Regions from separate parts of the Homo sapiens genome. Here region 1 is linked to region 2. Evidence: fine-mapped expression QTL. Tissue or cell type: whole blood. Region 2 holds a variant in brackets; the other region holds the start of a gene. All regions are shown on one strand. Distances are from middle to middle.

The links. PIP is the estimated chance that this variant, and not a neighbour inherited with it, causes the effect.
Region 1: ADGRL1 starts here. The variant in region 2 is fine-mapped to the expression of ADGRL1 in whole blood (TOPMed, PIP above 0.99). The same link has a PIP of 0.9 or more in blood mononuclear cells.

Annotation. Positions count from the first base shown.
Region 1 is chr19:14,204,540-14,207,436 of GRCh38, reverse strand. It overlaps ADGRL1 (adhesion G protein-coupled receptor L1), which reads left to right and starts at 1,268. Exons shown (of 23, transcript NM_014921.5): 1 at 1,268-1,452. RefSeq lists silencers at 475-574, 595-654.
Region 2 is chr19:14,236,151-14,239,047 of GRCh38, reverse strand. No RefSeq gene overlaps it. Among named protein-coding and RNA genes, the nearest start is that of ADGRL1, 31 kb to the right of the region's middle. The variant C/T (reference allele first, on the strand shown) is at 1,207.

The DNA of each region.
Region 1 (2,897 bases), 32 kb after region 2:
TGCCAGGAAGATGAGGGCAGCCCAAGTCGCCTCAGCCACTAAGCATCCCCCTTCCAGAACCCCCCACCATGCGAACCCAGGTCCCGGGAGTTCCGGGCCGGGTCTTGCTTGTTTCCACTGCGTTAGGCCTGACGCATTACTCCGTCTCCCGAGAAAGAATCCGGCCCGAAATTTGCGTGCCCCGGGTGCATTTGGCCATGTCGCATCTACCCCCCAACCCCCCGCTCCAACACCGTTCCTCCCATCTTTATCTAATCCAACTCGGGTTTTGCACAACCCTTCCAGATCTCCCCATTTGCGCCCTCCTTCCCCGGGCTCGGCGCCTTTCCTTATACTTCACTGGAAAATCCGCTCCGGGTCTTCCTTACGCCTGTCTCCCTTCCCCCACTCCCCGCTCCAACGCGGGGCTCCAGCACGTCGCTTTCCCTCTCCCTGCTTTTCCAGGGAGGAGGCGAGAGGAGGCGAAAGGAAGGAAAGTCCAGCCCGGGTTTTCGGGCCGGCTCCTGGGGCGCTCAAGCGGGTTGCGGCGGCCAGTCCCGGGCGGCGACTCCGGGCCGGGTTTTGCGCGCGCCCACCGCCCCCCTCCCGGAGCGGGTGCGCCGGGGAGCGGGGCGAGCAGGCGGCTTGTCATTGCTGGTGCCCGGCGCCGGCTCGGTCCGCGCGTCCTGCGGTGCCCACGGGCCCGGCCCGGCGCCCCCCCTCCGGCCGCACCGGGGGCGCGACGCCGCGGCACCCGCCTCCAGCCGCGCCGCCCCCCTCCGCCAGCTCCGCGCCGCCCGCCCCCAACCCGAGCTCCCCGCGGCCACTGCGGGGAGCCCGAGCCGTCGGCGCGGGAGCTGTCGGCGCTGCGGTGCCCCCGCCCCGCCGTCTGCCGAGGAGGCCCCGGCTGATGGGGCCGCGCGGGCCCCGGAGCGGCGCCGCCGGGCGGCGGGGGCCTGCAGGGGCGCCCCGGCTGCCCCGTTAACCCCTCGTCCACCGCCGGCGTCGGAGGGGGCTGGGAAGTCGCCTGGGCGCACACGTGCCGCCTCCGTCGGGGCCGCGGAGCTGCGGGGGAGATGCGGGCCGCTGCCGGCGCCGCCTCGGGGCGCTCCGCCTCGCCCCAGCCCCCGGCGCTCTGACGCCGCCCCCGCCCCACCGCCTCCCTCCCCGGGAGGGGCGCAGACCCGATCGCCCCCAGTCCCGAGCCTCCGCCGCCGCGAGGGGGCCGCCTTTGGATCCGTGTAATCCGCCTCTTTTTTTTCTTTTCTTTTCTTTTTTTTTTTTTTTCCTAATTTTTGGTCGGCGGCGGTGCTGGGCCAGGGGAAGGAAGGGACACGGAGGCCGCCCTCGTCCCGCCACCTCCTACCCGCTTCCCCCCAGCCCCGGCTCCGGGAGATGTGCCGGGCGGGGGGCCCGGGTTCGCCGAGCCGCAGGAGAGACACGCTGGGCCGACCCCAGAGAGGCGCTGGACAGGTGAGTGTCTGCGGGCCCAGGGCGAGGGGCGAAGCCGCACCTGGGCCAGGTGTGCGGGGCGCGTGGAAGAGGGGAGGCGGGAAGGATGGGAGGCCGGGGCCTGTCCTGGCCGCGAGGGGGGAGGGGACACGGGAGCCGCGCGGGGCACCGCACCTGAGCGGGAGGGGCGTCGGGGGCAGCCCGCACCTCACCCCCACTGGCGAGGGGCCTGGGAGGGGCGGCCCCCACGGAGCGCCCGGGGCGCGGGGGTGCGGACGGGCTACCGCAGGGTGCCTGGCGGGGGGAGGGGACCGCGAGTGTGCCCGCGCGTGGCTGCGTGTGCCCGCGCGCGCGCCAGCCTTTGTGGGGAAGCGGCGCGGCGGTGCCTGCGTGTCCCCGGTGCGTGTGCGCGCGGGTGCTTGGCGCCCTGTTTGTGTAGGTGTCTGGGTGTGAGCGGAGGGGGTGCGTGTGCGCGCCGCGCGCCGGCCCCGCGCCCCAGAGGAGCCGTGTCGGGGGCTGGCACCACAGGATGCTGGGCGAGGGGGTTGTTTTTCTCTGGGAGGCAGTGGCGCGGGGGATGGGGAGGGGTCCGTCTGGGTGTCCAGCCGGCCGCAGTCCGGGGGGCGCCGCTGTCAGGAGGAGGGGGTGCAGCCGGGCAGCACCTTCTCTCCGTGGTGCCGGGTTAAAGCACGGGAGGCCGGCAGGTTTGATCCACTCGGATTATTCGTGCTTTGAGGACAGCTCCCCACCCCCACCCCAGGTGCGCATTGGATTGAGCTGCGAGGGTTTGGTTGTCATCCTCCCATCTGACGGTCCTGGGACCCGAGTCCAGGCCTGAAGTGGTGGGGTGGGGGGATGCTGTGTTTGCTCCAGCCGTGTCCAGAAAATGCCCTCCCAGGTATCTCTCCAGTGCACCCCTGGCCCCCATCTGAAGACAGCCGCTGGCTACACACACCCCTGTCTCTACACTTCCAGTCCGGGTCCTCACACTGCCCCATCCCTGGCCAACACCTCACTGTACCTGCCTGGACCCTTTCTTCCTGTTCCAACCCCCATCCACCCCCAGCCATGCCAGCTGCGTGGGTGTTTCTGTATCCCAGTTCCAGGCAGGGCCCCCCCTTCCGCCTGGCTTCCACCGGACTCAGAGCTGGGGTCTGTCTTCCCACATCCCACTTCCCAACATGTGTGCCTGGGGGCAGGAGGGGGAGGGGTTCAAAATGGCTGCCAAGATGGCTGGCTCGCGCGCTCTCTCTCTCTCTGTCTGTCTCTCTCTCTCTCTCTCTCTCTCTCTCACTCTCTCTGTCTTTCTCTATCTCTCTCTGTCTTTCTCTCTTCCCCTCTCTGCTTGCCCGGCTCCCTTATCCTGGTAGGGAGTCACTGCTTAGAGGAGGTCGGATCCAGTGGGGCACACCTGAGGGTGAATGTCTATTCCGGGCCGTTGACCTCCATGCTGTTTGGGGACAGAC
Region 2 (2,897 bases):
GAGGTAATATATATGTTAATTCACTCCATTTAGCCATTCTGAAATGTATATGTACTTCAAAACATCATGTCATACACCATAAATACGTACAATTTTAATTTGTCAATTAAATAAATTTTAGGCCAGTGCAGTGACTCACCTCTATAATCCCAGCACTTTGGGAGGCTGAAGTAGGTGGATCACTTGAGGCCAGAAGTTTGAGACCAGCCTGGCCAACATGGTGAAACCCCATCTCTATTAAAAATACAAAATCTAGCCGGGCATGGTGGCATGGGCCTGTAGTTTCAGCTACTCAGGAGGCTGAATAGGAGAATCACTTGAACTCAGGAGGCGGAGGTTGTAGTGAGCCGAGATTGCACCACTGCACTCCAGCCTAGGTGACAGAGTGAGACTCCATCTCAAAACAAAACTAAACTAAACTAAACAAAAAATTAGCCAGGTGTGGTGGCATGCACCTATAGTCCCAGCTACTTGGGAAACTGAGGTAGAAGGATCCCTTGAGCCCAGGAGTTCAATACTGCAGGGAGCTATTGATCGCACCACTGCACTCCAGCCTGGACAGCAGAGTGAGACCCTATCTCTATTTTTTAATTAATTAATTAACTAACAACAACAAAAAGCAAATGGGCATGGATGCATCTCAATTAAAAAGAAATAGTTGGTGACTGAGGCCATGATCTCATCTGAAAGCTCGACTGGGGAGGATCCACTTTCAAGCTCATGAGTTGTTGGCAGGATCAGTTGCCCACTGGCTGTTGGTCAGAGGCCTCTTCTGGTTCCTGGCCTTGTGACCCTCTCCGATGGGCAGCTCACAGCCTGGCAGTTGGCTTCCCTCAGAGTGAGCAGAAGAGAGGGCAAGAAAGGGAGTGCATCCAGCTGGGCACAATGGTTCACGCCTGTAATCCCAGCACTTTGGGAGGCTGAGGTGGGTGGGTGAGGTCTGGAGTCCAAAACCAGCCTGACCAACATGGTGAAACCCCATCTCTAGTAAAAATAAAAAATTAGCTGGGCATAATGGCCCATGCCTGTAATCCCAGCTACTTGGGAGGCTGAGGCAGGAGAATCACTTGAACCGGGAGGTGGAGGTTGCAGTGAGCAGAGATTGCACCATTGCACTCCAGCCTGGACGACAGAGCAAGACTCCATCTCCAAAAAAAAAAAAAAAAGGGAGTGCACCCAAGATGAAAGGCGTGGTCTTTTTTGTGA[C/T]CTAATTTTAGAAGTGACATTGCATCGATTTTGCCACATTCTATGGGCAGGAAGCAAGTCATAGAGTCTAACCACACTCAAGGGTAGGGCATTAATGCAAGGGTTGGAACATTGAGGGCCATCTTAGAGGCTGTCCCTACACCATGCACGTCAATCCAGTGGCTTCATACCACCTGTACCTGTGACTCTTTGCCTGACAGCTTTGCTCTGGTGCATGCAGGCAGCCAGAAGTTCTGGAGAATTCATTTTCCCTGCTAGCATACCTCAACTAACAATGGCTGGGAGTTGGAGGATAAATACCCCAGCTCCCTCACCCTTTGCATAAGATAACTCTCAGGGTTTGTCCAAGATGAGTTAAGACCTAGATATCGCAGAATAACCTGCTCATTTCCACATGATGTACTGGCTGCCCTCCCTTCTGCATCTCATCTCCTCCATCCCCTGCCAGCACTCCCTGCAATCACCTTACAGATAAACCACTTTTACTCAAATCAGAGTGTCTCAGGTACACTTCTGAAGCACCCAACTGTATTAGTTTTCTAGTGCTGCTGCAATAAATTACCACAAACTTGGTGGTTTGAAGCAACATAAGTTTGTTATTCTCTTACAGTTCTGCAGGCTCAAAGTCCAAAGTCAAGGTGTTGGCAGGGCTGGGCTCCCTTTGAAGGTTCTAGGGAAGAATCCTTCCTTGTCTCTCTCCTAGATTTTGGTAGCTCCTTGTAATCCTTGGTGTTCCTCAACTCAAAGCTGCATCATTCCAGTCATTCCATGGAGAGGCTTCCATGGTCTCTGTGTGTCTCTGTGTCCTCTCCTCTTCTTAGATGGACACTTGTCATTGGATTTAGGGCTCATTCTAGTCCAGTAAGACTTCATCTTTTTTTTTTTTTTTTTAAGAGACAGGGTCTTACTCTGTCACTCAGGCTGGAGTGCAGTGGCACAATCATGGCTCACTGCAGCCTCCAATTTTTGGGCTCAAGCAATCCTCCCATCTTGGCCTCCTAAGTAGCTGGGACTACAAGTGTGTGCCACATGCCTGGCTAATTTTTTAAAATTTTTGGCTGGGTGTGGTGGCTCACAACTGTAATCCCAGCATTTTGGGAGGCTGAGGAGAGTGGATCATTTGAGCTGAGGAGTTAGAGACCAGCTTGGCCAACATGGTGAAACTTCATCTCTACTAAAAATACAAAATTAGCTGGGCGTGGTGGTGCATGCCTATAATCCCATGTACTTGGGAGGCTGAGGCAAGAGAATCACTTGAACCCAAGAGGCGGAGGTTGCAATGAGGAGAGATCGTGCCACTGCACTCTAGCCCGGGCTGCAGAGTGAGACTCTGTCTCAAAAAACAAAACAAAACAAAAAGCCCAGGTGTGGTGGCTCACACCTGTAATCCCAGCACTTTGGGAGGTCAAGGCGGGCGGATCACGAGGTCAGGAGATTGAGACCGTCCTGGTTAACATGGTGAAACCCCATCTCTACTAAAAATACAAAAACAACAACAACAAAAAAAAACATTAGCCAGGCGTGGTGGCGGGCGCCTGTAGTCCCAGCTACTTAGGAGGCTGAGGCAGGAGAATGGCGTGAACCTGGAAGATGGAGCTTGCAGTGAGCCGAGATCGTGCCACTGGACTCCAGCCTGGGTGACAGAGCGAGACTCAGTCTCAAAAAAAAAAAAAATTTTTATTTTTGTAGAG